Linked DNA regions of Homo sapiens: region 1 is linked to region 2. Evidence: fine-mapped expression QTL. Tissue or cell type: whole blood. Region 2 holds a variant in brackets; the other region holds the start of a gene. All regions are shown on one strand. Distances are between the middles of the regions.

Region 1 (16,672 bases), 24 kb before region 2:
TTGGTGTCTGTAGGGTGGAGTCTGAATTCCAAGAATTGAGTTCCCCATCTGTTAAGCCAAGAAGTAATTTGAATCTTAATTCAGGGCAGTCCTCTGTGTCAATGCTGGATGCAAATGCACAGTACGAAGTGCTTCATTTCCTGTAAACTAGTTAATACATTGGCTGTGGTGATGACTATGGGAACACTGGGGATTTTTTCCCCCCAAAATTGATTGTCTTATGCAGGAATTTGGAGGTGACAGTAATAGCAGGATTACCGTAAACCTTGCAAACATAAGGATTATCAAGACAATTTCTTCTGACTCTCTAGTGGAGAATTTTAATTCAGGGCTAGTGCAGAATCATTTTTTTCTGGAGAGAGTGAGGTGCTGAACTCCACGATCTCATTGGTCCTTAACCCTAACTTGCTAGTGGTGTCATATAGGATATGAGAGTCCTGGACGACAGAATCCCGTGGAGTCTTGATCTCTCATTCAGCTCTCTATCCTGAGTCATTATGGGCTCTCATGTGGAATAATGGCAATGGCAGTTGGACATGATTCTGTTTTTTTCTTGTTGGGTCCCAGTTGGTTTTGACTTGCTCTGTAAAGCGTTGAGATACTTCATGTTAAGTATGAAATATAACCAAGATGACATGTCTCAAGTTTTGTGAAACTTATGTTATCATACTACATGACTGGATGTATGTCCTATATGTGTATGTCCTATATATGTGTATGTAACTGGATGATGTCCTCTGGTCACAGTTTTACTTTCTTTTTTTTTTTTTTTTTTTTTTGAGACAGAGTCTCGCTCTGTCACCAGGTTGGAGTGCAGTGGCACAATCTCAGCTCACTGCAAACTCTGCCTCCTGGGTTCAAGTGATTCTCCTGCCTCAGCCTCCCAAGTAGCTGGGATTACAGGCATGTGCCACTATGCCGAGCTAATTTTTGTATTTTTAGTAGACACAGGGTTTCACCATGTTGGTCAGGCTGGTCTCGATCTCCTGACCTTGTGATCCACCTGCCTTGGCCTCCCAAAGTGCTGGGATTACAGGCATGAGCTACCGTGCCCGGCCCACAGTTTCACTTTCTATGTAGTTCGATATCTGTTCTTTGACTGCTGTGCTACCCTGAATACATCTCTGGCATAGTTTCTATCATACTATTTTGTAATAGTCTTATTTTGTATTATCTTAAGCTTAGTTCTAGATGTGAAACACTCAATAATGCTGAACGAATAAGATCCACCCCGTTAGATGCAATAGAAAAATGCAAATTAAATTGTAGCTGTTTGGAAATGAGAAATGACCAAACTGTCAGAACACCATGACCTTTGCCTTATATCTGTTCCTGTGGAGAGAGATCTGCATCTATTGCAGAAGCTGGTTTCCCAGTACTTGCATTCTTATAGCTGATTTATTGAGACCGAACAAACCATTAAAAAAATTATGTTTTAACCACAGGATGTAAGGAAGATGTAAAGTCTAAGGTATGTGTTTCTAACGTAGGTACTAAGGTAGAATAGAAGGATAATATCAAGAACAACTCTAGACTTTTCTTTATTGATTAAAGAGAATAATTTTCCAAAGAAGAAATTCTACTTGTTGATTCTTATATAGGGGTAGAATGCACTTTATAATATATACCTATTATATGTTATATATTATGTAGTAGATACATATTATTTCAGTATCTTACACATATATAGGATCTGTAAATTATATTTATTTTTTGGCCTCACATGCAGGGAAAACTTTAAGTATGTTTTAGATTTATTTTGATTTGCTTTTATATGACTTTAGGTATATTATCAGTTAATACAATTTTTTTTTTTTTTTGAGACAGAGTCTTGCTTTGTTGCCCAGGCTGGAGTGCAGTGGTGCGTGATCACGGCTCACTGCAACCTCTGCCTCCTGGTTCAAACAATTTTCCTGCCTCAGATTCCTGAGTAGCTGGGATTACAGGCATGTGCCACCATACCTGGCTAATTTTTGTATTTTTAGTAGAGATAAGGTTTCACCATGTTGGCCAGGCTGGACTTGAACGCCTGACCTCAAATGATTCACCTGCCTTAGCCTCCCAAAGTGCTAGGATTACAGGCGTGAGCCATTGGCCAGGCTGGTCTTGAACTCCTGACCTCAAATGATTCACCTGCCTTGGCCTCCCAAAGTGCTAGGATTACAGGCACAATCTCTGGTGAACAATTTGTAATATGTCATTGCTCAGAAAGTTAAAAAATATTTTTGTAGATTGTAGTGTCTGGATTTTACATTTCAGTTTGAAATATGAAATGTTACATTTACTTATTTTTTTAAAAAATATATGTATTTATTTATTTATTTGAGACAGGGTCTCACTCTGTTGCGCAGGCTTGGAGTGCAGTGGTGTGATCACAGCTCACAGCAGCCTCGACCTCCTGGGCTCAAGTGATCCTCCTGCCTCAGCCTCCTGGGTAGCTGGGACTACAGGTATGTGCTGCTATGTCTTGTTAATGTATTTCTTATTGTTTGTAGAGACAGGGTCTCACTATCACAGGTGCTCAGGCTAATCTTGAATGCCTGGGCTTAGGCCATGCGATTTTCCCAAAGTGCTAGGATTACAGGCGTGAGCCACTGTGCCTGGCCTACCTTTATTTTTGTAGTATAAAATAAGCAATTTTTTCTTAGACTTGTTTGAGGGCTCCTTTTTTTTACCTACCCTTTAAATACTGATGTTCTTTTGGGTTCTCTTTTTTTAACCCTTTCTTTTCCTTCCCCTTTCCCTTTCTTAGATAAATAACACTGACTGAGTTCCTAATGTGTATCAGGCCAGGACCATGGTGTACAGCTGAGCAGGTTGTGCAGTACACAATTCCAGGAGCTGCCAGTCACTGCCTCCACCCCAACCACCACCCTGGCCCATCAAGATTTGTATCGTGCAGGCATCTCCGTGTATCAGGCACTTTGGTAGCTACTTAAAAAAACCACTTTTACCCTCACAACAGCCTATGAGATGAATGTCATCATTCTTATTTTATAGATGAGAAAACTGAGTTTCGGGTATATTAAATAACTTCATTAAGGTTACATAATAATGAGTGGGTAGTGGAGTTTGCCAAGGTCCAAATCCTCTGCTTCCCTCTATAGCATGTGGGTTGTCTTAGCTTTTGGTAATCTCATCTATGGCCACCACCTAAATGATGGCAATTCCCAAATGACTCTCCACCCTAGATCTCTCTCTGTTGATAGCCTACTGGTCAGTTTTTCCAGTATGCCCCAGAGGCACTTCTGATTCTATAGATCTTAATTTGAATTATCATGGTTTCCTTACCATCACTTCTCTTTTATTCCCCCTCTTAGTGGTGCCAGCAGTTGGGGCTATTCTTTTTCTCTTATCCCCCTGCATCTGATATAGTTTTGATGTGTGTCCCTGCCCAAATCTCATATTGAAATGTAATCCTCATTGTTGGAGGTGGGGCCTGGTAGGAGGTGATTGCATCGTGGGGGCAAATTTCTCACGAATGGTTTAGCACCATCTCCCTAGGTACTGTCCTGGGGATAGTGAGTTCTTGTGAGAGCTGGTCGTTTAAAGGTGTGTAGCACCGCCTCCCTCCCCCCTCCCCCCGAAACGCTCTCTTGCACCTACTTTGACCATGTGACAGGCCTCTCCAGAGGGCCAAACAGATGCCAGCATCATGCTTAAAGCCTATAAAGCCTGCAGTACTGTGAGCCAATTAAATCTCTTTTCTTTATAAGTTACCCAGTTTCAGGTATTTCTTTATAGCAATGTGAGAATGGACTAATATAACATCCAATCAGATACCAAGTTCCATCACTTCTGTTTCTGAAATCTCTCTCCATTGGTTCCCTTCCTTTGCATGGCAGTTGTCACTGCATTAGCTCAGACCCTCATTCATTTATTCTGGATGTATCAGCTCTGTCTGAATTATGAAAAATTTCACCTAGAGTCTCATGTCTAACCCTTTGTTTTAGCTGTTTGCTCAGCCTGGTTTACCCTTCTCTACCACACCTATTGGGCTACTTGAAGACATAGATTTAAATCACTGATATGGTTTGGATCTGTGTCCCCAGCCAAATCTCGTGGTCGAATTGTAATCCCCGATGTTGGAGGTGGGGCCTGGTGGGAGGTAATTGGACCATAGGGACAGAGTTCTCATAAATGGTTTAGCACTATCTCCTGGTGCTGTTTTTTGTGACAATAAGTTCTTGAGAGACCTAGTTGTTTAAACATGTGTGGCATTTCCCTGCCCCACCCCGCCTTGCTTCTGTTCCAGTCACGTAAGACATGCGTGCCTGCTTCCCCTTCACCTTCTACCATGATTGTAACCTCCCTGAGGGCTCCCCAGCCATGCTTCCTGTGCAGCTGCAGAACCATGAGCCAATTGAACTTCTTTTCTTTATAAATTACCCAGTTTCAGTTATTTCTTTATAGCAATGTGAGAACAGATTAATATAATCACCTTCTCAGAGAAGACTTGATTCTTTTCATCAACTCCTTTCCTTTAAATTCTTCTTCTCTGTGCTCCCAATAGCACATCATGCTTAAGTCTATCATATCACACATTATGTATCACTCACACATTGGGTACAACTATCAGTACCCTGATAATTGATTTGCTTGTCTTACTCCTTCCCTGGATTGAGAGGTCTTTGAGGACAGGGAGACCATGTCTAATATCATTATCTTAATACAACCTAGCAGATTGTCTGGGAGGAAATCAATAAATGCTCCAGAGAATGAATATCCATTCACACTGTAGACTCCTTAGGAAGATCTGAGAGAGTTTGTTCACATAATATTATAGCATTCAACGTGTTTATTTAGTCTTATTAAATTTTGACTGCAATTTAAAAAAAATTTGCATAGTTGCATGGTTGAAAATAATCAGTGGTGATGTTACTCAGTTGTGCAAAATATTTGGGATAATAGGCAGCACTATTCGTGCTTATGTTCTCATTCATATTGGCAGCAGCTTCTTCCCTTATCCTGTTAACAAGAGATTATAATTTATGAATGGTAATTTGAAAAGTGGACTCTGTGTTGAACTTTGGTTTAAGGCTCAGGAGATTTGCATCAACACCAATGAATAAACTAACCTCTTAGAGGTTGCTTTTTATCTTTCCTAGTTCCTGTCCACCAAAATGGTCACTATACCAAGAAAATTCCTTGAAATAGATTATCTCAGAACCTAAGCCATTGCTAAATCTGAAGGTTGGACTTCCTTTGGGATGGTTTTCATTTACATTCACCTTCCTCATGTAACTCAGATTTAGGTCTCATTCTAGCTTGGCCTGTGTCTGGTTTGGGCCAATCTCTTAAATCTTCCTGGACATCAGTTTCCTTATTTTTTTTTTTTTTTTGAGACAGAGTTTCGCTCTTGTTACCCAGGCTGGAGTGCAATGGCGCAATCTCGGCTCACTGCAGCCTCTGCCTCCCAGGTTCAAGCGATTCACCTGCCTCAGCCTCTCGAGTAGCTGAGATTATAGGCACCCACCACCACGCCCAGCTAATTTTTTGTATTTTTAGTAGAGACGGGGTTTCACCATGTTGGCCAGGCTGGTCTTGAACTCCTGACCCCAGATGATCTGCCCGCCTTGGCCTCTCAAAGTGTTGGGATTACAGATGTGAGCCACCGCACCCAGCCCAGTTTCCTTATTTTTAAAATCAGGTTATTTGCTAAAATAGCTAGGAAGACTTTTCAAGCTCAAATATCCTACCGTGGGTTCTTTTATCATCTTATTGCCCCTGTCCTTTTTCTCTTCCTCCCTGACTGGTGAGCTGGTCCTCCTACCTGCCCTAGCATGGCACATGTAGATACACTGTGTTATTCAGCACTTTGCTTTGACCTAGAGGTTTTCTTCAACTTGGAGGGCTGAGAAGCAATGTTTGCTTGTGTCGTTTGGAATGGTGCCTGTTGGCGTGCACAGATCCTTTCCACAAAGGGCCTGTGAGTCCCTTCCTTTTAGGAAGCACATTCCTGACAGTGGTTGCAAAAGTAGAGAGGGATTGCAGAGTGAACACAGATTCTTGTGTCAGAGCGACATTCCTAAATGGCAATGTTCAGCAGACTTAGGTGATTGTGATCTATGGGGGATATGGGGAATGAGTAGGTATGCGATTCATTATGAATGTCACACAAATGAAGTGTCCAAGGGTTTGGAGCAAGGAAGCACTTCATAATACCTCACAGCTTCTGGATTATTTTGTTACATTTTTGTTTAATTGAGGGTACAACCAGTTAAGTTACAAAGCACTTCAAGTGAAATCATTGTTTCATCAAGAAGTGTCTGTATTTTATGAGGTAAACTAAGATTATTCCCGATTTGATTCACAGGTATTCTAATTTCATCATTAGATGCAAAAGGACAAGTGAGGTACAAGCTGTTTTTTGATGAGATGTGCATGGGAAGTGTTTCTATAAAACAGTTGTCTGCCACGTGGGAAGGCAGGTCTGGGCTGTTAGAAGTAGAAGAAAGAGATTTAAAGAGCTGGGAAGGAGGGAGAAAATAAAGAAAGGTGGCCTGTGAGGATATGTACAGACAGAGAGGTAGCAGGCGCTTAAGGCCAAGAGGTGAGCTGTCCCTGTCTGGGCAGAAGAAGTGCGCTAGGGGCAGCTGCCTGCACCCCCTGCTCTGAATTCCTGCAACAGCGGTCCCAGGAGAACAAGAGACAGGTCCTGACAAGCAGTAGAGTCGGTGCAGCGCGCCCGGGTTCGGATAGGGTTAAGGCCAACACCTGCAGCTGAAGTACGACCCACATGGGAAGTAGGAAGTGCGGCGCCTGAGCTTCCTGTATAAATAAACGCGCTGCTACCGCTGCTGGCGAGCTGTGCCCCACGCTCCCGCTGCAACAGTCCCGGGCATCGCAGCTGCCAGTCAAGGCTAGGAGGCGGTCGGGGACTCCGCCTCCTCCCGACCCGTAGGTCTGGGAGCGCAAGTCCTGTTGCAGTCTTGCAAAGTGTAAAGCTGTCAGCCGCAGAGCACGGAGGAAAGACGGAGAGAATGGAAGAGCTCCTGTCCGGTGTGCCAGCAGCCCGGACTGGCGGTGAGCGCGAGGGAGGCTACTGAGAAGCCCGGCGACGGAGGAACGCAGGTCTGCTGCCAGGTAGGTTTAGCGAGCTTTTTAAAGGCTACAGGCGTTGCAAGACCGGAATGGTGTTGCTGGACTAAGGAAAAAGGACAGGAAACTCACTGTGACACCACAATTTTTCGATTTTCTGTCTCTAGTGCTCAAACCATACAGAACTGAATTCATTCTGAATGCCTTAAACACCTGTTAACTTAGAAGAAAAATGCCTTTGTTAAAGGAAAGTAGTTTCATTTCTAATAAAACAGTTTCTATAATAGAATGTATTGTAGAATCCGAGATTAGACCAGACCTCTCCCTAGGTCTTAAGGGGAGACCAAAAGTTGGCATAATCTCGGATTATGCATTATAGTGCTTATTTTATCAGGTAATTGCTAATGAAACAGTGAAACTCTGATACTACGAGAGCCATTCTCAAATTTAAGTTAAAATCGAACTGATTGTCGTTTGTGCAGGGAAAAGGTAGGTATCTTTTGCTTATTCTTTCTAAAACACCTTTTGTTTTTCTCATGAGTTTCAAGGATCCTGCTGTAAGTCTACTCCTCATGCATATACACTATTCACATAAAGATTTCCCAGAAATTAATTCCCTTCTCTGGGAAATGTTCTTTTTTCATGTTCTCATAACAGACTGTCAGTTTCATATTGCTTTCTGCCACATGTATCTTATCAAAACATTAGCTCTGAGGTTCTTAACAGGACTATCTCTGCTCTTCCGATTTGGCATTTCTGGACGTTTATTTGAACATTGAGAGGTATAAATTAAATGGCAATGTATCTAACATTTCTGAGGAAGCAGATTAGGGGGTGTCTGTGCCCAGAAGCAAAATAAATGAACTTTGGGATGACTCAGTTTTTAGGGTGTGGGTAAGAGGCAAAAGGAACCTAGCCAGTCCTAACTGAGTTGCTGGCTAATTAGAGTATCTGTCTGCCGCAGCTTTCACTGAAATGAGCCTCTTGGTCCCTTTCACATCAAATCCCTCTGTGAGTCCCTCCTTCTCCTTAGTTTATCTTTCCTTCACAACCTGGGTCCTTTTCATGGACAGCAGTGCCTTAAATACTTCTAAAACTATCCTGAGGGGGAGAAAAACCTATAGCAGATCCACAAAGCCACTTGTAGATAATTGTATTATGAAATCCAAGGTCATGGTTTCACACAACTCCTGCTCTGCCCTTGCACACCTTTGACTGGCATTTTTTTTTTTATTTTTGTCGTGGGCATAAACTTAGAAAAGTGGGAAAGGGAAAAACCTCAGTTTCAAAAGTAGTCTCTGACTAATTAATTATCTTGATTAAAAAAAGGTAAACATATATAGTGAACGTGAAAAAGATGTTGAGTAGTAGAATTGGGTTGCTTGGCTTTTTATTTAAAACAAACAAAACTCAACCAAAAAAACCCCCCAAAACCCCAAACAATCACCCTAGATAACTTTCTCCTACACTACTGTGCTGGAAGTCGGGCTTGAGTGTGGTCAAATCCTGCCCATTTACCCAGAGTTTTACAAATATTTACAGTCATCTATGCCAAATATCTTTGTGCTGAGTCCCAAAGAACATTCTCAGCATTCAAAAGGCCCATTCTCATGAATGGTTTCAGTTCATTGGCAATTTAAAGGCATTCAGGCTTCCAAACTAGGTCAGCTTAAGACATGTCTTTTTAAAATAATCAGTTTTTGGGTCTCAGATTATGAACCAGGTTTTTGGAGCCAAACTCTACAGCAGAGAGAAGAGTATGCTCTCTCTGGAAAGAAAAAGCTTATTTTATCTACCTGGTATGACCATTTAACTTCCTGAAAAACGTCTTTCTCCTCAGTAGTATGAATATTTTTCATCTGAGGAGGTGCACTTAAAATTTCCTTCTTGAAAAGTCATTTCAATATTTTAGACGTTTAGAAACATTTATATGTATGTCAGAATCCTTTCTCCGAAGTGTTTCTGCTAATCCTGGCTTCTTTGTTTCCCCTGGCCTTGACTTTATGACATTACTTTCTTGGAGAGTGAAGTTTTTAGTGTTTGAAATCTCCAGTTTGAGATAGAGGTCAGGAATCATGCTGAACCCAGATGTTACTGAAGGAACAAAGTCTGAGCAGTTTTGGGACTAAGCCTACTTTGTACAACTGATTATTTTGGATGTGGGAAAAGGGCCAAGCTGCCAGACAAGTCATGCTTTTCACTTGGACTTTGGGGAATAGGTATCTGTAGCCATTGCTCCTAAGTACTGAAACATTTCTTTCAGGGGTGCCTACCTTAATTTATAGAAGCTCCTTACCTGAAACAAATGGTCAATATTTTCAGCTTGTGAATTTCTGGAAGTGAATACAGATGAGAACCAGGCCTTTAATATTTTCTCTCCTCCAAGTACAATCAGAAAAGTTATCCACTCTACTACTGAGTGACTGATTTGCTAGGTGCTAGGTTAGATGCTGGGATATAAAGATGGCTAAGATGTGGTCTCTGTCCGGAAGAAATTCTCATAAGGTCAGAAGTGACTTGGGTCTAGAGTGGTAGTTCTGAATTCACATTGCTTTGCCAGATTATAAAAAGTACTTCGATGTTTGTCACCTCGATCATCTTAATTTTCTTGGTAGTGTTACCTTGACCATTTGACCATTAAGAGGTATATGACACCTAAGTTAATTTATGTAAATATTTTAATTCATAATTTTTACCTTTAGGTGTATGTGGGAGGTCTTGGACTAAAGTTTTAGTTTTATTAACTTTGGCATTTGCTATTTACCCAGTCGGTGAGTACTTTGGAACCTAATGCATCATACCATAGTTGTTATTAAAAAATGGATAACTATATATTAAATGAGTAAAAATGACCAATGCTTCTGCAACGTGGAATGAGGATCTTCTCATCTATGAGCAGATCTCTTTCTTGAATTCAAAACACAGCAATCTAAGTGAAATAGACTTTTCTTATTCATAGCTGGAGATACTTCTGATCACATGGCTTGGAGTATTTATTAAGAGCATACTTTGAAAGCCATGTCCCATTGTTTTCTAAATCTTTTGAAGTCACGAGTTTGAGTCCCAGCCCTTCATCAACTTGTTCTTTGTTTTTCTTGGGAAGATAAAACAAGACAACTCGTTTCTGTCTGTTGAACTTGTGGCTGAAACCATAAACCCACACATTCTCCTGCATATGATTATATGAAATCCTCTGTTGAAAACCTCCTCAACTAGTTGACTCTTAATAAGTAGGAGCTGGGTTTAATCACCTTTACATCCCTAGCACCTAATGTGTAGAATTTGTTCTTTGTGTGTTGACTTTGTTTCCTTCATGATAAATTCCTGTTATAGGAAATTAATTGGCAAAGACATACAAAAATCTACACCTGCACTTTGCTCAGGTGGGGTGAAGATTCCTCTTCCAAACTGGTTTCCAATTTGTTTCTAATTAAAATTTCTATATGAAACTTTTAACTTTAACAGGAGGGGGTAATATTGGCACATGCTTTTATTCATTTGAAAAAAAATTTTTGATTTAGATATTCGTGCTTTAGCGGCTCTGGTTTTCTGGTAATGTCCTGACCCAAGAAATCAGCCTGGCTCTTGCTCTATAAGGCTCTTTGAAATACCACTTCTCCTTGATTGGTCAATTACATCATTGTCTGACCTGCCTTTAAGTGGCGTTCCTTCCTGCTTCTGAGCTTTGTTGTTATGCCAGGCATAGGGAAGAAAATTATTTAGCAGGGCTGTGTGAATAATTGTGGGAGGCAGGGAACCACTGATTAAAACAGGAGTGGGCAAGGCACAGTGGTGATATTGAAGAGGTAGCTACCATGATGAATGCAAAATTGCCATGCCAAAAATATCATTGAGCTGTTATTCTCATATTCACTCCCACCTTCTTTGATAAGTTTATATTGTTTGGAAAACTGGGAATGGATTTCTACCTCTTGGGCCTTACCCTGTAGGGTAATGAGAACATGGAAAGAAGGCAAGAAGAAATGTGCTTTTAAGAAAAAGCCAGTTGCGGTGGCTCATGCCTGTAATCCCAGCACTTTGGGAGGCTGAGGTGGGCTGATCACGAGGTCAGGAGATCGAGACCATCCTGGCAAACACGGTGAAACCACATCTCTACTAAAAATACAAAAAAATTAGCCAAGCGTGGTGGTGGGCGCCTGTAGTCCCAGCTACTCGGGAGGCTGAGGCAGGAGGATGGCGTGAACCCAGGAGGCGGAGCTTGCAGTGAGCCGAGATCGGGCCACTGCACTCCAGCCTGGGGGACAGAGCCAGACTCCATCTCAAAAAAAAAGGAGCAGCAGTTTGCAAATGTTAAAACTAGATGTGCCAAGGGCCAGGCGCGGTGACTTACGCCTGTAATCCCAGCACTTTGGGAGGCCGACGCGGGAGGATCACGGAGGTCAGGAGATCGAGACCATCCTGGCTAACATGGTGAAACCCCATCTCTACTAAAAAAAAAAAAAAAAAAAAAAAAAAATTAGGTGTGGTGGCAGGTGCCTGTAGTCCCAGCTACTTGGGAGGCTGAGGCAGGAGAATGGCGTGAACCCAGGAGGCAGAGCTTGCAGCAAGCTGAGATAGCACCACTGCACTGCAGCCTGGGCGACAGAGCGAGACTCCGTCTCAAAAAAAAAACGATGTGCCAGATGTTCTGTCCTCTGTAGGATTTGGAGTTAGCTTATCACAACGTCATGTACATTGTTGGCCATGCTTGGACATCAGCACCAATATATATTTTGTAAGAAAAAATATTAGATCTCACTAAATTAGTTGTAACAGACTTTATTCATAACCTAATTTCAAGCAGCAAAGAGATTGTTTGGAAAACAGTTCTTGCTAATACTTTAAGATGCTTCTCCTTCCTGATGAAGTGCCTACTTTTTTTTTTTAACCCACAAAAAGGTTAATAGGGCTATATTTGCATATCAGTTCCATTTTTAGAAGGTTAATAGTCTCCAAGTTACAAAGTTGTGATCTCATTGCCATCCTAGAAACTGTTGAAATGACGATGTTAAAACTAAGAAATTATAGACTAAATAAAGTGCTTTTTGAGCACTTTAAGCCATGAAACAGTGGCGAGAAAACAGAAGTCCTCTTCTCTACCACAGGAGGCACAGTGATACAATACTGCCACCTCACAGAGCCTGAATAGGTGAATATTTACTTTCTTACATCTAAGACCTAAATATTTCCTGGGTTTGTTTATGCTAGAGGATATTTTCTAATCTATTTCATTTTTTCAAATAATGACAACTTATGTGTAATATCATGTATGTACTCATTGAGTTTGAGCATTATTCTTTTAAAAAGGGCAGATCATGAGGTCAGGAGATCAAGACCATCCTGGCTAACATGGTGAAACCCCGTCTCTACTAAAAAATACAAAAAATTAGCTGGGCGTGATGGCGGGCACCTGTAGTCCCAGCTACTAGGGAGCCTGAGGCAGGAGAATGGTGTGAACCCAGGAGGCAGAGCTTGCAGCGAGCCGAGATCGCGCCACTGCACTCCAGCCTGGAGACAGAGTGAGACTCCATCTCAAAAAAAAAAAAAAAAAGTAATTAATAGATATACAGTTTATTTAAGTAATTGCAGTTCCCTGACTACGAGAGGGGCAGCCTATGTTTCCATTTGTTCATGTCCTCTTAGGTTAGGGCATGCATTAGAACTGTTTTTCTGATTGAAAGAATGTACGCTGGTTCATCTTGTCCTTGAATGACCAGAGAGCTGGTTGGAGATGCAAGCGGAGAGTAGAGCTACAACACTGGCCACAAAGGAGGTCTACCATAAGCCCTTGCTTCCTTCATTGCTGTTGCTACTGCTACCAGCCAGCAGGTCACCCTGCCATTGTATTTGGATTGTATTTAGGGTAGAACTTCAGCTAATGGCTGATAATGCTCAGCACTTTACTAGACTCAATTAGTACCATTGGGTTCACTAATAGTTTCTGTTAGGAAAAGGAACCAGTAGCTAACCAAACTACTCTATTGGGCAGAAGTACCAAGATCAACATAATGCTGATTTTCAGATTGCATTGAGTGGAAACTGGTTGCCTGGTGTGTTCTTAGCTGATATGGGGATAGCTTTCCTAACAAGGCAAGGATGGGACCTTTAGATTGCTGCTCTTTTTTTCTGCTTTATTAGAATATTAGCTTCCCGAGAATATGTCTCCATTTTACAAGGCAACACTTCAGCCTTTCTTCATCACCACCCACCCTTCTCAAAAACTTTCCCCTTTGCTACCTCCCTCCCATATTTATGCATTCATATCTGTTATTCTAGCTACTTCACAGTGATGACTCGATGTCTCACAAAGGCATATAAACACATTGAGAGTATACATATGTCTCCTCTTCTGTTTGTCCCCTGTACTTGAGTAACTCTTAGAATTTCATAGCATAGCTTGGAATTAAGACCTCAGTGCAGATCAACTGGATTTTTATTTACATTAATATCCTGTGGCATCAGTAATATCTAGCTGATTCATTTTAGTAGCTTTCTATTTCTCTTAGTCTCCTTAGTTGTGCTTTAGCAGTTTCTCCAAATTTTAAAGTTTCTGCATAATAAAGTAAAAATTCCAAAATAATTAGGGATAAGTGTCCTAATAATAATTAGGGTAAGTATCCTAATAAAACATTATCCCTTCCAATTACACTATCTTTTTGTGTAAGGGAATAACTGTGTTGATTTTGGATAATCAAACAGACATAAACTACATTGGTTAAAAATACTTTGAATAGCTGGGTGTGGTGGCTTACACCTGTAATCCCAGCACTTTGGGAGGCCGAGGTGGGCGGATCATGAGGTCAGGAGTTCAAGACCAGCCTGGTCAATATGGTGAAACCTCGTCTCTACTAAAAATACAAAAATTAGCCCGGCGTGGTGGTGGGCACCTGAAATCCCATCTACTTGGAACGCTGAGGCAGGAGAATTGGTTGAACCCGGGAGGTGGAGGTTGCAGTGAGCTGAGATCATGCCACTGCACTCTAGCGTGGATGACAGAGTGATACTCCGTCCCCTACCCCCCAACCAAGAAAAAAAAAAAAAAGCTTTGAATGTTGGCTCTCCCATCATTTGCATTTTTGGAGCAGATTGCTTTTTCAGGCCATCAGCAGAATATGAAAATTCCTTATACATTCTGTGCTGAAGTATTCCCTTCTTTGACAATTCTAATGACAAGACACGAGGGGAAAGGCGACTTTCCATTCTTTCCTATCAGATAGTACTTGCTTCTCATATAATGAACACTTTATAGTGCAAGAGACACATAGAGCAGGTAGAACTGCTGGTTCTCCTTTCCTGGTAATTTAGTGCAAACTCAGACGTTTCAGAATGGCTTTCCTTCCTTACATGGCCCAACCAATCTGTCTTGTTCTATGATTAGGTATATATAAGCAAGTGATACCTGCTACCAACCTTAGAATGCCTAAACTTGAAAGGCAGCTGTCAGATTTCAAGGTGCCCCTTGCATTCTCTGCCAAAATTCTTTTCACAAGGGGTTCTTGACACTCGGTGAGAGGCACAGTCACATCTATAATCACTGTAAAAGTAATTATAATTGTTAGCTTTTAAAATCAAGTGGTAGGGTGGATAATTCAAGTCACTTTCTTATTTTTGATAGAAATGTGAGGTATGAGGCAGTAGGAGTGAGTTAGCCTCTTTCTGGAATGAAGACTTTTCTTGAAACCTGGAGGGGAGTGGATGTGAATTGCTTGTGCCCCTGTGAAGTTGTGGCCCAATGGGAGGGACAGGAGGAGCTGGGAGTGTGTTATCAAATGCCCTGAGCTTCCTGAGGCTCTACTATTGGGGGTTTCATGCTGTGAAGACCGGTGAATAGTAATATGACACAAAGGAAGAAATGCAAGGAAACCTTGGAGCCATTCACAGGCATCTCAGGTGTGGGGAAATTCATTAGAGGCTTTCAGGATTCTCCTGTTTACTGATTGAAGAGCTCATTTTGCAATGAATCAATGGTGAAAGGATTTCTTGTTTGATATTCTTTTTTTTTTTTAAATGAAGTGCTCACTGCATTTCATTCATTTTTTTAACTATCCATTGTTGGTTTTGCCCAAAGTGAGAAACGAAAGGGTTGGTTTTTAGTCTGTGCATGGTGCAGGTTTAGGCTTCTGCAATGGTGCCTGGGGGGCTGCTGAGTGGGGAAGGTCAAGGGGACTGGCTCTGGACACCCACTATTGGGTGCTGGCACTTGTCTACCTGAATCTCTTTTATACAGTGGTGGTTTGACTAAGATTTTTGTTTTTGAAAGCTCATTGCTTGAAAAATGTCTGAGAGCCATTGCTTTAGGGAATTGGTGTTATTGTACACAGAAAAATAAATCACTTTTTGAAGAATCATTTTGGATTGTTCACATCTCAAGGAGATGAAATATGTAACTTTTTTCCTCTATGTCACTGAGTCATAAGTCCTGCCTTTTTGGAATGCTTGGAATTTTTTAAAAAACAAAATGCATCTCTGCTATGTAAAGGTTTTTCTATTATAAAAATTACATATGTTTTTTATAACTTTGACTTCATAGCCTATAGGCATGTAACTCCTTAGTTTTAAGGAGTAAAAACTTACGTACTGTTTATAGTAAGAGACAATTATGTTTCACATGGTCTTGATTACCACAATTTTTAGTTCTACCTTCAAAAGAAGACTATTTCTAAGAAATATCTAATTATAGGTATTCCATTATGGATAATAATTGAGGTATTATTAGAGGAATCCAATATGTCTTTCAAGAGTATCCAATTAATTTCTAAGAGGTATCCCAATTATGTCTTTGTTTTTCAAGAGTACATTAAAACTTTGGCCTGTTTAATATTTCCTTCTAAAAAAATAATATAGAGTAAGACTGAGAAATACTTGGATTTCTCGAAGAGTACCTAGATCTCTTGCTAGGTCAGAACAACAGGATTGGCTATTCACACCAGCTTTCTCCACATGGCTAAGTGTATTTGACATTTGGGGTGTGGGATGGTTCTGGCCTGTGTCATTACCCTTTTTCTCCTACTCAGGAAGCATTTACTACCTACGTTTCTTCTTGTTGTTTTACTTGGGATTTCTCTTGAAAGAAAGATAATTCAGAATAGATTGCATAAGCAGTGAAGCAGCGTTGAGAATGTACAGGTGAGAAGACAACAGATGGGAAGTTGGTGGGACTGTGTGCCATGAGCCCGGGAGTACTGGAGACGCAAGCTGATGACAGTTGTTTAAGCATGAACTGGGAGGAAGGAAAAGGTAAAGTCATTCATTTTTACCCGTATGTTTATCATAAAGAGAGATTTTTTACAAAAACTCAAAATCCTGAATTTGACGTGCAGGTCTATTTGAATTTAATTTGCTCTTGGATGACAGCTCCTCAGTAGTTAATGGAATAACGCTGTGTCTTGAACTTTATCCGGCATTTGCTGAGAAAAAAACCATGTCTTCCACATGGAAACTAACCATTAGTTAGCTTCCTATTTAATTATTTTGAATCAGGTTTTCTGGTACTGAGTACTGGGAGTAGGTGAAAAACCTTGAATGCTTCAGGTTGCTCGAGTTAGTAATCGTTGACTTTCTGGTATGACATTAAGAAAGTGGATGTGGACAGATTGACAAGCAAATATCTCATTTATTTTTTTCCTTTTCT
Region 2 (16,672 bases):
GCAGTTAGGATAGAGAGAAATGTCTCTTTTGGATTTGTTCAAAGTGTGGCTTTGAAATATTTAAACTAAATATCTAGAATTAGGACTTAACAGGGAAAAAAAAGTGCCAATACAACTTTGACAGTAAATAGATGAGCACATTTATGGTGGATATAAAAGATTCAGATGAAAGGGTGTTTCAAAGTACCACATATTTAAGAACTTGCTTACTTCCAAGAACATAATAATATAATTACTTGTTGGCTTGATATGTTAGTCTAGTATCATTTTAAGTTCCTTTTATTGAGAATTCTCTGGAACCACAAGAAATAATGAGGGATCTTACTCAAGGCCAATGCCACAGAATGATTCTCTGTCCCCTCTTCTGGTCATGAGACCTGCCAACCTTTCCCAAAGCTTTCAAATTCTCCAGCTCCAGATTCCCACGTCTTCTACTACTATTAAATGGGCCGAACTAAGTTCTGCCAGTTCAAAGCACTGTATTATTCTGTTGGTTTCTGGTACCTAAATATGCTTGCTTGCAAGGTTAGTTTTTTTCTTTATTATTATTATTATTATTATTATTGTTATTATTATTTTTGAGATGGAGTCTTGCTCTGTTGCCCAGGCTGGAGTGCAGTGGCACAATCTCGGCTCACTGTAACTTCCGCCTCCCGGGTTCAAGTGGTTCTCCTGCCTCAGCCTCCGGAGTAGCTGGGATTACAGGCATGTGCCACCAGGCCTGACTAATTTTTTTTGTATTTTTAGTTGAGTTGGGGTTTCACTATGTAGGTCAGGCTGGTCTTGAACTCCTGACCTCGTGATCCACCTGCCTCGGCCTCCCAAAGTGCTGGGATTATAGGCGTGAGCCACCGTGCCCAGCCGCAAGGTTAGTTTTATGCTTTCCCTTAACTTTGCTTGGGGTGGTTAGCAGTAAATCAGTGAATTTGTCTTTGTTTGTGAAATAACTTCAATATACTCACTGCTTATATCCATTAAGAGATTTAATGACAATACTATGGTGACTTTTGTATTTATTGGTCAAGTCACAGGTTTACAATGCCGATTTTATTGGCACTATATTTTTCCACTGACAACGGAGCCACTGCAGGGTCAGATGGCATCTGTGGAAAAAGAGCAAACAGTAACAGCATGAGAAATGGATTAGAGATGACTCAAGGAGGAGCTGGCTTCCTGGACCTATGATCTCATCCATGCCTAATGCTTACCACTTACTTATTCAAGGAAAGTAGTAAAATGTGGCAAGAGAGGAAAGAACAGCAGAAGAAAACCATACTATTAAGGCCCTAATGTCTTTGTCATAGCATCATAGTCCTAGAATTGTAAGTGACCTTAGATCTTCTAGTTCCCCCACCCTCCTAATGAAAGAAGTCATTTTCTGGGATGCCAGTATGGTTTGGCATTTAAGAGAATGGGTCTCAAGTTTGGTAGCTTAGGCTTTATTTATTCAACAAATATTTGCTGTGTCTTGCATAGTTCTGATGGTTTGAATATAGTGGTGAACGATCAGATTAAGCCCTGGTTTTCAAATAACTCAACTTTTCGTATGAGACATAGATGCTAACAAGTAAATACAGAAGTCAGGTGATGGTTTGTGCTATGGAAAAATAGGGTGAGGGGGGTCAGGAGTGCTGTGGGGAAGAGGGACTTCTACTTTATTAGATGATCAGGGAAGTCTCAGTGATAAGGTGTTATTTGAGCAGAGACCTGAAGGAAATGGGGAACAAGCCATACAGATATCTGGGAGAAGAGGGTTGTAGGCAGAGGGAAGCAGTATGGAGGTCTTAAGTTGGGAGTGTGCTTGGTGTATCCTGTTACAGCAAAGGAGGCTGGTGTGGCTGGAAAAGTGTGTGTGTGTGTGTGTGTGTGTGTGTGTGTGTGTGTGTGTGTAGGGGGAGTAGTAGGAGATGAAGGCTAAGTCCCATGATCTTCTCTCTGCAAGCTGGAGACCCAGGAGAACCAGTGGTGTATTTCCAGTCCAAGTCTGAAGGCTTGAGAACTAAGAGAGCCAGTGGTATAAGTCCCAGTCCGAGGGCAGGAGAAAACTGATGTCCCAGCTCAGGCAGTCAGGCAGGGAGACGAATTCTTTCCTCCTTTTGTTCTTTTTAGGCCCTTAATGGATTGGATGATGCCTGCTCGCAATGGGGAGGGTAAACTGCTTTACTCAGTTTACCGATGCAAGTGCTGATTGTATTAGTCTGTTTTCACACTGCTATAAAGAATACCTGAGATCTATAAAGGAAGGAGGTTTAATTGACTCACAGTTCTGCATGGATGGGGAGGCCTCAGGAAACTTACAATCATGGTGGAAGGGGAAGCAGCCACGTCTTACATAGTAGCAGGCGAGAAAGAGAGCACCACACTTATCAAACAACCAGATCTCGTGAGAATTCACTATCATGGGAACAGCATGGGGGATACTGCCCCTATAATCTAGTCACCTCCCACCAGGTCCCTCCCTCAACATCTGGGGGTTATAATTCAAGATGAGATTTGGGTGGGGACACAGAGCCAAGCTATATCACTGATCTTATCCAGAAACACACACACACATGCCCAGAAATGAGGCATATAGGAGGCATCCTGTGGCCAAGATGACACACAAAATTAACCTTTATGCATAGAGAATAAACTACAGGGGCCAGGGTGAAAGCAAGAAGACTACTTAGAAGGCAAACGTAATAATCCAGGCCAGAGATGATAGTGGCCTGGACCAGCAGATGGTAGGGGTTAATGTCTTTGGGCAGTCTATTGGGTCATTTTCTTTCATGTAATATAGGGATAATAAGAAATCATCTCACAAGATTATATAGAAGATTACAGTAGATAATCTAGATAAATTACTTAGTACACTGCCAGAATACAGCTAGCATATATAGCTCTACTCTTTTTAGTGTGGTTATCTAGCTTTTGACTGATAATTTCCAGGATTGGGACATACCATAGTACTGACTATTCAATTATTGGAAATTTCTAAATTGAAACCATCTTTGCTCTACATTCATTTGAAACTGGTTTCTATGTAAATTCTAACTATTAGCGTTACTTCCACTCTCTAAAATAAAATTGGTTAGAATCTAATTTTACTATTCCTGGTTGAAATCTAATTCTACTCACTAGCTGCATATTATTTGAATGAAGGTTATCTTTTTTTTAGAGGGCGGACGTCAGATTACTCATGAAAAATTCTCCTATAGTGCTCAGTCCAATGTAGGAAATAGTGAGCTATCTAGTAGTGAGATAAGTAGGCCTGCTATTAGTTCCAATTCTGTCAATAACTCTATGACTCGAATCAAGTTATTTCTCTAGAATTTCCTCATTTGTAAAAATGGTGGCTTGGTTTGGAATTTTTCTTTTTCTTTCTTTCTTTTTCTTTTTTTTTTTTTTTTTCCAGACAGAATCTCATTTTGTTGCCCAGGCTGGAGTACAGTGGTGCGATCTCAGCTCACTGTGACCTTTGCCTCCTGGGTTCAAGTGATTCTCCTGCCTTAGCCTCCTGAGTAGCTGGGATTATAGGTGCCTGTCACCATGCCCGGCTAATTTTTGTACTTTTAATAGAGATGGGGTTTCACCATGTTGGTCAGCCTGGTCTGGAACTCCTGACCTCAAGTGTTCCTCCCGCCTTGGCCTCCCAAAGTGCTGGGATTACAGATGTGAGCCACTGTACCCAGCTTGAGATTTTTCTAAAACCATGATTTCTTTTTCTTCATCATTTTCTCTTCTTTAAGCTGAGAATCCTCAATTACTTTAACCAGCCAAATTGTTTTCCTATGGGAGGTTTCAGTTTGGTAAGGAAGATATATCATTCATCTTACTAGTTACTATTTTAATATGCATTTATCTTCTACATTTAGGTCCTGTAATCAAATTAGCATGATCTTATTCTATTTTGGATGGAAACATGACTGTAGTGGAAACTGTGGCATTCACTCGGATCCCTCTTCAGGGCAATGTTTCTATCCTCCATTTCCCAGGGACTGGCTTATGGAACAATGACTGATTGCTACAGGGATATAAAGGTCTTTCCCTTTCAGCTTAATGAGGTGCCGCTGCGAAGGGCCCTTCCTACCTTGAGAGTACCCTGTTGGAATGTAGGGCCAGATCAGACCCTGGCTGCAGCTGCATGGCGGGTCAGGATCTCCCTCTGCCCACTTCTATTCTCCTTACTTCCTTATAGGCATGACTTTGGTGAGAGTATACCCCATACTCTTCTAAATGGAATTCTCCATCCCTGAATCAATTTCTAGGGAACACAGTTAAAGACACAAATCCGTGAATTATTATTTTTCTTCTGGTAATGCCTCCACCTATATAGTCCAGAAAAGTGTTTTTTTTTTTTTTTTTTCTCTGCAAAATGAGCATCTCATGACCTTTACAGGGTCTGCCTTTCATCCCATTGCCTCTAAGTTAACTAATAAAGTGTGATATATTCCTTAAGTGTGTTATATTCCTGCTTTATTAGTATATTTACACAATTCTATAGAAACTGGAAAATTTGGCTAGGTGTGGTGTCTCATGCACTTTGGGAGGCCGAGGCGGGTGGATCACTTGGGGCCAGGAATTTGAGACCAGCCTAGCCACCATGGTGAGACCCTGTCTTTACTGAAAATACAAAAATTTGCCAGGCACAGTGGCGCACACCTGTAATCCCAGCTATTTGGGAGGCTGAGGCATGAGAACTGCTTGAACCCGGGAAGTGGAGGTTGCAGTGAGCTGAGATCTTGCCACTGCACTCCAGCCCGGGCACCTGAGTGAGACTGTCTCAAAAAAAAAAAAAAAAAAAAAAAAAAAACCCTGGAAAACTCTTCTTTTTCTGGGTAGATCTCTTTGAACATACTTTAACATATCTTACCTTCTTGCCATAGGTATATTAAGAAATAGTAACTTATGCCCTCCCCCACCCTCTTGGGTTGACAGAATTCTTTTGGGACAAACTTCACTTGCATAACCTTTTTTTTTTTTTTTTTTTACTTTTTGAGATGGAGTTTTGCTCTTGTCCCCCAGGCTGGAGTGCAATGGCACGATCTTGACTCATTGCAACCTCCGCCTCCTGGGTTCACGCAGTTCTCCTGCCTCAGCCTCCTGAGTAGCTGGGATTACAGGCAGGTGCCATCATGCTGGCTAATTTTTGTATTTTTAGTAGAGATGGGATTTCACCTTGTTGGCCAAGCTGGTCTCGATGTCCTGACCTCAAGTGACCTGCCCGCCTTGTCTTCCCAAACTGTTAGGATTACAGGCGTGAGCCACTGCGCCCCGGCCTACATAACATTTTTTACTTCGATCATAGGCGTAACAAGTACTTTAGGCTTGGTATTCGGGTAAGGGGTGATGTTATAATGTGGAACAGAATTTTATTTCTTTTTACAAAGGAAGTTGTGAAAAGATAGTTTGGTGATCTGTGCTTGTATGTTGTGTAGACTTTTCCCCCCTTAAGCATGCCTTTGCCAAAGTTTAATTCTTCAAACCACATATCAGAATGTAATAGGCTGGCCAAACATGCAAATCATGACCAGAGAGCAGGCAAAAGTTGGTTTCTGATGAGAGAACTTTTCCATTGTTGCCACTAAGTCACCAAAGTTTATGTATTTCTTCTTTTGAAGTTGCACCCTTATTCCAATATTCTCTAAGTCTATTCCCACCTTTGTCCAGACTCTACTGATCCATTTGGTACTAGTGTGTGCCAGGCATGGTGTTAATTGTGGAGCAAGTGGCAGTCATCAGACACAACCAGCCCTGCTGTTATGTGGGCAGTAGACCCTCTGATAAAGGAAGTACAATATGTTATAAAGCATACAGAAACCCACCTAAAATAGACTCAGGGAGGTAGGAGGTTTCCTAAGGGCTGAGACTGAAAGATAATAGGGATTGCTTGATGGCATTGTTGATGGGGCTGTGGGTGAGAACAGTGCTCCAGGGAAAAGAGGCCAGCCACATGTGAGAACACAGAATCAGGGAAGAGTGACCTGCTGAGGAACCAAACCGGAAGATGTTCCTGGGACACATTGTTGGAAGTGTGGGTGTGCTCAGGCAGGAGGCCAGAGAGGCAAGCAGAGACTAGATGGAGGGCCTGGTATGCTGTGTTAAAAAAACATTATGGAGCCACTGGAAGGCTTTGTTTGGGAATGAGATAGGGAGGATGGCGTCGGTACAGGATAGAGAATGGACTGAAAGTGGGCAAGGCTGGAGCAGGAGGAGGGAACCATGGCAGGCTGAAGCAGAGCTCGGAGAACAATGTCCTTATCAACTTAGGATACATGTGTATGGCAGACTGCAGTTTTGATGCCTGGAGTATTTAAATTATTTTTGTGCCCCAATTTCTCTTTTTTCCTATCCATTTGGGATACTGTCAGCTTTCTTTTCTTTTTTTTTCTTCTTTTCTTTTCTTTTTTTTTGAGACGGAGTCTCATTCTGTTGCCAGGCTGGAGTGCAGTGGCGTGATCTCTGCTCACTGCAACCTCCGCCTCCCGGGTTCAAGCAGTTCTCCTACCTCAGCCTCCTGAGTAGCTGGGACTACAGGCACGTGCCACCACTCCCAGGGAATTTTTGTATTTTTAGTAGAGACGGGATTTCACCATGTTAGCCAGGATGGTCTCGATCTCCTGATCTTATGATCTGCCTGCCTCGGCCTCCCAAAGTGCTGGGATTACAGGAATAAGCCACCGTGCCCAGTGAAAGTACATTTTTAAAAATCATGGCTAGTACTCATAGAAGAAATAGGACCCTAAAGTACAAAATAATCATGTTTCAGGGCTCTCTTGGTTTATTACATTGAAGATAATTTTTAATTATAAATGTAACACATGCTAATTTAAAAATAAACCAAAAAACCTCAAAAAGCATGTGCATGATTCATATATATATATATATATATATATATATATATATATTTTTTTTTTTTTTTTTTTTTTTTGAGACGGAGTTGTGCCCTGTCGCTCAGGGTGGAGTACAGTGGTGTGATCTCGGCTCATTGCAATCTCTGCCTCCTGGGTTCAAGTGATTCTTCTGCCTCAGCCTCCCAAGTAGCTGGGATTACAAACATGCGCCACCGCACCCAACTAATTTTTGTATTTTTAGTACAGAGGGGGTTGGCCAGGCTGGTCTCGAGCTCCTGACCTCAGGTGATCTGTCCACCTCAGCCTCCCAAAGTGCTGGGATTACAGGCGTGAGCCACCACGCCCAGCCCACCTGTACTTTCTTCTAGACTCTTTCCCTGTGTACTTACGCACATCACTTAATAGAGAAATGGGATCTTTAACTACAGATACTTTTAACTTGAGTTTTACAAACATAGTACATTGTGGACAAGTTTCTGTGCAAAAATATACAGACCAACCTTCCTTTTTAAGTATTGTATAGTGTTCTATGATATGGTTGTATGAAAATTTATTTAACTGGGCCCCTCCTAAATAATGGATTTTAAGGTTGTTTCTAGTTTTTGCTATTATGAATACATTTTTTTTACTTATATAAATGTGAAAATACCTGTCCTTAGGATAACTTTTTAGAAATAGAATTGCCTAACCAAAATAGATGTACATTTTAAATCAGTATGTGTTACCAAATTACTGTTCCAAACTGTTGCACCAGCTTGGCAACTCCACCAACAGAGTAGGAACAGAGGCCTCT[C/G]TTTTGACACTCCGGGTATTTTCCAACTTTTCACCTTCTGTAATCTGGTATGTGAAAAGAACATATCTCATGGTTTAATCCATACTTCCTCTTTTTAGGAGGAAGCAAATTGTTGTAAGAGAAGCTCATCTCATGAATCTATCTTTAAAAAACATACAGTATGCTCAGTGCCAGTATAGTTTCAACTGATTTTATACCTTGGTATTAATAGTAATCAAGTTAGAAAAAAATGGGCCATATCTAGAAAAGTATATTACACATAGAAGACATGAATGAATGAAAAAATGGTGGTGTTCAGACTGAGGGAGATGCCTTATCACACAAAAAAATTCATGTCCAGTGACAAAATGTTACTAAGTAGGTAAAGGAGGTTTAAAAAATTTAGGCAAGTTGAAAAAGGGTGGTGAGTTAACTAGAAAATTCAGTTTTTTAAAATCCCATTTTCTGTATATTTCAGTTCATTAAAGATTGGTTATATAAGGCTTATCTATGTGGATTCCAGATATGCAGTGTACCCCTTGGAATCAGGTGAGACACAGTGCCTCATTTCCATGGAAATACATGGCTCTGTGTTAACTGAAAGCCTCCATGGTTTTGAATCATTTCCCACCCACAGTAAGGAGGTCTTTTTGGTTTGACTCTTCTGGAAAATATGTGTGAGGTATTTACTACATGAATGTAGGGTATTTTTTCAATCTGCTTAAACCTCATTTTATTCATCTGTTTAAAAAAATTACGGAAGGAAAAGCAAGGGCATTTGAGTACCTTTCATATAATATGTAATATGCAAGGGTACTATTTTTTCCCCCATTTACTCTTCCAGTTTACAGATAAACCAATTCAGAGTTAAATAACTTGCCCAGGATCTGTAATGTTAATCCCTACATCATAGTGTCGTTTGGAAGAAATAAAAACAAGCTCTGTGAAAATATATAATGTATGGCCTAGCACATAGTATGTGGTTCCTAAATTTTTTTTGTTAGCATGAAAATGGATGAAGGCCCATATTTGGCTTTTGTGATCTTAACCTGAAATGTCTAAAGCTTGACAATAGCCTATAAAATGCAAAATTGACAACTGGCTACTGATTTTATATACGTAAAAGTTTAGTCAGTACAAAACAAATGTAAAGAACTACTGGTTTAAAAAATCCAAGGAGTTTTTCAGAGAACAGAAAGTATGTAATCAGAATATAGTGGTGGCCATGGCCTCATATTAGAGATTGAGCATGAACATGAGTGTTCTGTGAACTTTCCACTGTGTGATTTCGGGTAAGTTATTTGAGGAAACCAAGGCCGAGACATTCAGAGGTCTGATTTACACAACTGGAAGTTCCCAGTGCATTTAGCATATTTTCAGATGTTGAAACTGAAGTCAAGGTTCAAGGCCAGGCATTCTGCCTCAATGACTGATGTTCTCCCACCCTCCAGGCGCATTGTGTCTGTGGAAGTTACTGGTGTTCTTAAGAGGACCTCAGTCTGACGGTTGTTTCCAAGTGATTCTTCTGTGTTGAGGGTGTTTAATGCATGGGTTACTGCAGAGCACAGAGACCTTTTCTGCAAATGGAAAAAAATATTATAGCTTAACATCTGCTTTCCCTAGGTAATGTGTTAATTAAAGATTGTTTTAATATGGAATGATGTCTAGCCTTTGAAAAACTTTATCTTACGGTTTATGGTATTGATAACCTTCAGAAAAGGAAGACTGGTTCAAATTATGTCAATTAATATGAAAAAAGCCCACTCAATATGAAGCCCCTTGACTTCTAAAAACTTGCTTTTTAGAAAATGTTAAAAAAAATTCCAGGTTTTGCAGGATAAATCCTCGGGGGAATATTGTGAGGTGAGGAATAGTCGTGGTCTTGATGCAATGTAACTTATAATTAGAAAGATGCTGATTTTGCTGTGGAGTCATTGAATATCATTATTTCAAAATAATTTTGAATAAAATGAGATTTCTAATAACCAACCTAGTCATTGTCCAACCTTTTCTACTTTTTCAGAGTTCAGTTCTCTTAAATCTAAGAGATTCTCTTTTGTAATGTAGCTCAAGAGGAAGTTTAAGGGTTAGGTCTATTCTTAACTGATGTCCCTTGTTCCTATCATTCCATGTATAGAAATAATATCTTCTTGAGGAAACTGTTAAGCGTCACTCTTTCCCAACTTTTGGGTCATTAATATGAGCTATTTTGCATGCTGGCTTTGTAGGTTATATCCTGTAGGAAAAAATGTTGGTGATGAGTTAGCTTTATTCTGTCACTTATACAGTGTTAATATTCTTTTAAAATTTCAAAAATTCAGATAGTTATTAATATTGCTACCACTAGTTTTATTTAAAAATGTTTTAATTTGTATAGATACGTAGTAGGTATATATATGATTAGTTTTAATTAAGATATTATTTCATTATAATTTATTCAAACTGGTTTAAATACTGAGACAGATTTTATTTAAAATATAGGATTTCTGCTTTTAAGCAGTATTAAAATCTGAGATTTGATGAATGGTATAAATTTTATCTTTTGCTTTTAGTTTTAAAATATTGTACAACATCCTGTTTCTATTCTTGAAGGTGAAAAAGAACAAAAACTTTTAAAAAGATGGAAAAAATTGTACAACAGTTTGTTATGAAACAAGATAAAGATTTTTACAACAAATACCTGTAGAGTTATCCCTTGGTATCTTCAGGATATTGGTTCCAAGCCCCTTCCCACTCCCCACCCCAAAGATACCCAAATTCATGAATGCTCAAGTCCCTTATATAGAATGGTGTAGTATTTGCATGTAACCTATGTACATCCTCCCATATACTTTAAATCATCTTTAGGTAACTTATAATATCTAATACAATGTAAATCTATATAAATGGGTTTTCTACTGTATTTTTTGTGTATTTCTTATTGTGATTTTAAAAATATATTTTCTGTCCGTGGTTGGTTGAATCCATGGATGTGAAATCTGAGGACGGGGGGCTGACCGTATACCAACTATCTCTTAGATTGTGCCTAAGTCCTTTTGTGTTGATATAACAAAATACGCGAGACTAGGTAATTTATCAACAACAGAAATCCACTACTCATAGTTCTGAAGGCTGGAAAGTCCAATATCAACGTGCTGGCAGGATTGGTGTCCCGTGATGGCGGCTCTCTGCTTCCAAGATGGCGTCTTACTGTTGCTTCCTCTGGAGGGGAGAAATTCTGTGTCCTCACGTGACAGAAGAGATGGAAGGGCAAGAGAGCACTCCCTTTAACCTTGAGCCCTTTCATAAGGGTGCCAGTTCCATTCATGAGAGTGGGGTCTTCGTGACTTAATCACCTCCCGTGGGGGTTCAGTTTTAACGTAAATTTTGAAGGGGACACCATCATTCAAATCATAGCGGATTCTAACATTAACTTTTTGCTTGCTTTATCACATATCTCTCCGTCTGTTTAGCCTGCTGTCCTTTGCATGGTGTAGTTTAATATTCATTCTGCATTCTCTAGTGGAATGTGAGTACTCAATGTGTTTGCTTAGATTGGGTTGAATGGTTATATTTTATTCAGGTGACTAGCATAGCCGTACCTCATGGTTGAAGGGGTTTCTTGAACCTTTACTAACTTGGGTTTTGTTTTTTTTTTCTGTGTTGCTGGGACCTTAAGTGCACTTTTAGAGATTCAGAAGCGCTAACAGTTCAAGCAGAGACTCTAATAGTAGGAGGAAGAATGAAATGACAAATGAATTCAGTGGAATCTGGCTATGCTGAATCCGTGGTATGCTTATTCTCACTGCCTGTGCTGGGTCTGTGTGCTAAGGCTTTGGTGTCAGCTGAGGGCTTACAGTTCTGAAGGCTAATGTTTCTTTGGAGAAAGTAGAAGGATGTAAACTTGGCAAGCCTTCTTGTTTTCTTTCTCCTGGAATGGTCAGTTACTTTTCTGAGCATACTGTGTCATAAGATAGCACCTGGGCCAGAGGGATCTCTTTGGGATTAGTATAAAAAGTGGGGCCTCCTTCTGTTAAGAAAGGCAGCACAAGTGGGACAAAAGGAAACTCCTCTGAAAGGTTAATGGATGAGTGATTGAATTACTCAAATTGGAAGCAGATTTTTCCAACGCTAGTGCCAGTTCACTGCTCTGATTGGAATGTTCTTCCATTTTAGCAAATTTGTTTGGCTTTCTTGTGAAGCCTGGACCAGGCTGCAGCATTTCCAATGGGTTTCTCTTCAGAGCTATTTCTGTCATAGAGTTTCTTAATTTAGATATTTCATGATCATTTGAGATAAAGATAGACGTGTTTGATCACTCTTGGTTGGTGGGAACTGGAGGTACTTTTGATTGGAGTCCAGATTTAATCTCCCATATTGAATGACTGTCCTCAAACTTACAAGGTGGATCTTAGTAATCTTTTCCAGAAAATGTAACGGCACTATTTTGGGCTAAAGTATTTAAAGGCTCTCAATCAGAGTTTTAAATTTTGCATATATAATTTCCCCCTTAAGCTTCCTTTGCTGTTTCTTTTGGAACTAGCTGAATGCTTGTATTCTCTATGGAGAGGTTGGGTAGAAAAGAGTGATGAGGGGCATAAAAGTATCTTCCCTGATTAGAATGGAGGGCATGGGTGGTACTGAACTAGTGGTGCTTAGACTTGGTTGCAAATGGGAATCACTTCAAGAGTTTAAAAATATTGATAACAGTTCAGCAAGGTGGCAGAATATAAGATCAATGTACAGAATCAATTGTATTTCCATATACTAGTAAGAAATAATATAATTGCATTAATAAGAAAATAATTCCATTTACAATATCATTAAAAGGAATAAAATATTTAGGGATAAATTTACCAAAGTAGAAAATTCTCTGAAAACTGCAAAATACTCTAGAAAGAAATTTTAAAAGACTAAATAAAAGATATCCCATCTTCATGGATTGGAAGACTTGTTAAGGTGGCAGTACTCCCCAAATGGATTTACAGATTCAACACACCTCTTGTAAAAATTCCGACTAAATTCTAGGCTTATCCCAAAATTCCTATGGAAATTTGAGCAACCTAGAATGGTGAAACAATCTGGAAAAAGAACAGAGTTGGAGAGCTCTATTCCTCATTTCAAAACTGATTACAGAGCGACAGTAATCAAAACATTGTGATACTGTCATGAGGATGGACAGATAGATCAATGGAATAGAATTGAGAGTCCATAAATAAATAAATAAATCTTATTTTTTGTCATTTGATTTTCAACAAGGGTGCCAAGACAATTCAAAGAGGAAAGAAATGTTTTTCAGCAAATGGTGCTGGACAACTGGATATCTGTTTGCAAAAGAATTAAGATGTCTGTGATCTTCCTCATACCACAGACAAACATTAACAAAAATGGACCATACACCTATAACAGCTGAAACTATAGAACTCTTAGAAGAAGAAAACATAGGAAAATAGAAAAATTTTCATGATCTTGGGTTAGGCAAGACATTCTTAGATGTGACACCAAAAGCATAAGCGACAAAAGAAAAAGCAGATAAATTGGACTTCATCAAAATTAAAGACCTTTTTGCTTCAATGGACATCATCAAGAAAGTTAAAAGATAACTCACAGAATGGGAGGAAATATTTGCAAGTCATATCTCATAAGGGATACAGCTAGAATATATAAAGAATTCTTACAACTCAGTAATGAAAACACAAATAACTCAGTTACAAATAGATGAAAGTATAGATAGTTCTGAATAGGGACTTCTTCAGAGATGATGTACAAATTACCAATAAGCATGTGAAAAGATGCTCAAAATCACTAGCCAACAGGGCAATGCAAATCGAAACCACAATGATATTCGACTTCACATTAAGATGGCTATAATAAAAAAGACAGAAAATAACGAGTTTTGATGAGAATTTAAAGAAGTTGAAACTCTCATACACTGCTGGTGGGAATGGAAAATGATGCAATTGCTTTGGAAAATCATCTAGCAGTTCCTCAAAAGGCAAAGATAGAGTTACCATATACCATACCTACTCCTAGGTAAATATCCAAGAGAAACGAAAATGTATGTCCACATGAAAACTTGCTCATAGCAGCATAATTCATAATACCACTCAACTGGAAACAACCCAAATGTCCATCAACTGATGAAAGTATAAACAAAATGTGGTATATTCACACAATGGCATACTATTCAGCAATAAAATAAATGAAGTACCAATACATGCTACAACATGTATGAATCTTGAAAACATTATGCTAAGTGAAGCCATTGACAAAGGACCATATATTGTATCATTCCATTTATATGAAATGTAGAGAGTAGGAAGATCTATACATACAGAAAGTCAAATGGTGGTTCCCTAGGGCTGTGCATGGAGGATCTGGGGGAGAAATGGGGAGCATGTACTAATGGGCACAGAGTTTCTTTTGGGATTATGAAATGTTCTAAAATCAAATTTGGTGATAGTTATACACTGTGAATATACTAAAAATACTGAATTGTACACTTTAGATGGGTGCATTGTATGGGTACGTGAATTATATCTCAGTTATAGATATCTGAATTATATCTCAATAAAACATGACATAATATAAAATATATAATATTTACATATCATATATAATAATGCTATATATATAATATACACTGACACCTGGATCCTTCTCTTAGAGAGTCTGAATTAATTGGTCTGTGGTATGGCCTGGGCATTGGACTTCTGGAAACCTTCCCAGATAATTCTATTAAAAAGCTGATGTGGAGAATCTTTGACATGGGTCTTGGTACTTACAAGTGTGGTTTGTGTGCCAGTGGCACCAACGAGACCTGGGAACTTACAAGGAGGGCAAAACCTCAGACCCCACCCAAGATCCACTGAATCAGAATCTGCATTTTTGATGGGATCCTCAAATAACTTGGATGGACATTCAAGTTTGAGAAACATTGTCAGTAAGGTAGTTGAATAGTAAGGCAGGCGAATGTTATCTCTGAAGTTCCTTATCCTCTGTCCATCCACCCCTCCTCCTCCTGCCTATGGCTTTTTATTAAGGATACCCTTCCCAGTAGTGTCCCATATCTTCCAGTGTTTCTTGTCCATAAAAACATACCAGGCTTAGATCATTTTCTTCGGGGGCACTGCTCTCTGCTAGGGAACCACTGGCCTTTTGGGATATATTCTCCTGAGAGCAAATAGGCAGTGGACTAGCACAACTGGTTCTATATAGCAAATGAGGCGACCCAGGAAGAAAGTGTAGAAAGAAGAGAGTTTAGGTCCTTTCCTGAAATTCCAGCATTTAAAAGTTGAGTTGAGGAAAATGCAGAAGATTGAGAAAGAGTGACTAGAGAGGAAGAATGAAAACCAGAAGAGTATGGGATCCAGAAGACAAGGGGAAAAAGGGTTTCAGGAAGGTGGGAGTGGTTAGCTGTGTGTGATACTGCTGTTGAGAGGTTGGGAAGGAAGAAATGTGTACTGGATTCAGTGACCTAGAGCCACTTCAGTTGAGTGGCAGGGAGGAGTTGGGATGGGATTGGTGAAGGAGTGAGGGAAGACAACTCTTTCAAACATTTGATTGTGAAGAGTTGAGGAGTGAAGAAGGCAGTATACAGCCAGGAAGAGGAGTGAGAGAGGGCTGTTCTATGCTGTTTTATTATGACTTTTCTTTGATTTCTTTGATTAGGATATTTTGAACATGTTCAAGTATAGACAGGACAAAATTCAAGACATAGGAAAGAAAACAGGTAATGAATAGGTAAATTTCCTGAAAGGCAGGAGGAGATGGGAACCAGAAAAGCAGAGTTGGCTCCTATGTGTCAAGAAAAGAAGAACAGAGGATGGATGTGTGTTTGGGTGGGTTCATATGTTTCAGTTATCAGAGGTGAAGGAGCTTGGCCACAAAGTTGAGCACAGACTGAGTATCCCCTATCTCCTTATCTGAAATGCTTGGGACCAGTAGTGTTTCGGGTTTCTGATTTTTTTTTTGATTTTGGAATATTTGCATTATACTTACTAGTCTACCATCTCTAATCTGAAAATCTAAAGTCTAAAATCCTCCAATAAGCATTTCCTTTGAGCACCATATTGGTGCTTAAAAAGTTTTGGATTTTGGAGCATTTCAGATTTTGGATTTTCAGATTAGGGATACTCAACCAGTAAGTGCTGGATTCAGGCTTCCAGCTCTCAGAGAAGCCTGAGTGTCTACTATGTGCCAGGTCCTGTGATTGATTAGGTGCTTGTAGGGGACATGAAGAGGAGCAGATATAATCTAGATCTAGAAGGAGCTTCTAGGCTATAGAGGAGGCAGGCAAGTTGATAGTCATTTGCAATGCAGCATGCTGGGCGTGCTACATTGCTCATGTGTACAATAAACATCTGGTGTTACCTACGGTCATCATAGAAAGGTTGGCAAGTAGAGGAGGAAAAGCCAAGTCTTCTGGAGAATTTGGGGAGCGGGGGAGGTTGCATCATTTATAAAATTCCTTCTGGATAGTCTGATATTCTAGTATGTCCCCAAGTGAGAAGGCAATACCACCAGCCTCACTGCTATTGAGAATCAGTCCATTCTCCCTCCTTTTGATGATTTTATGTGGCTTCCTTTTGAAGGGGAAAAGAATTGGAACTTAATATCAAACTATTTTAAAATTTCCTTTATTAGAGTCTTACGAAAACTTATACAAACATGATACTAAGTAGTATATAAGCATATTTAGGCATATATCTCTTAAAGAATAAGAACACCACAATAATTATACAAACTTAATATTGATTAAAATTACAGACCAATAAGGCCAGGCATAGTGGCTCATGCCTGAGATCTTAGCACTATGGGAGGCTGAGGCAGACAGATCACTTGAGCTCAGGAGTTCAAGATCAGCCTGAGCAACATGGCGAAACTCTGTCTCTACCAAAAATACAAAATAGCCTGGCATGGTGGTGCGCACCTGTGGTCCCAGCTACTCAGAGGCTGAGGTGAGAAGATTGCTTGACCCCAGGAGGCAGAGGTTGCAGTGAGCTGAGATCGTACCACTTCACTCCAGCCTGGGTGACAGAGTGAGAAACCATCTCAAAAAAAAAAATTATATATTATACACACACAC

Evidence for each region.
Region 1: RNF144B starts here. The variant in region 2 is fine-mapped to the expression of RNF144B in whole blood (INTERVAL, PIP above 0.99). The same link has a PIP of 0.9 or more in blood mononuclear cells.

What each region holds. Positions count from the first base shown.
Region 1 is chr6:18,380,545-18,397,216 of GRCh38, forward strand. It overlaps RNF144B (ring finger protein 144B), which reads left to right and starts at 6,806. Exons shown (of 8, transcript NM_182757.4): 1 at 6,806-7,086.
Region 2 is chr6:18,404,612-18,421,283 of GRCh38, forward strand. The region is part of intron 2 of RNF144B (ring finger protein 144B); the gene reads left to right. Among named protein-coding and RNA genes, the nearest start is that of RNF144B, 26 kb to the left of the region's middle. RefSeq lists an enhancer at 10,021-11,220. The variant C/G (reference allele first, on the strand shown) is at 7,627.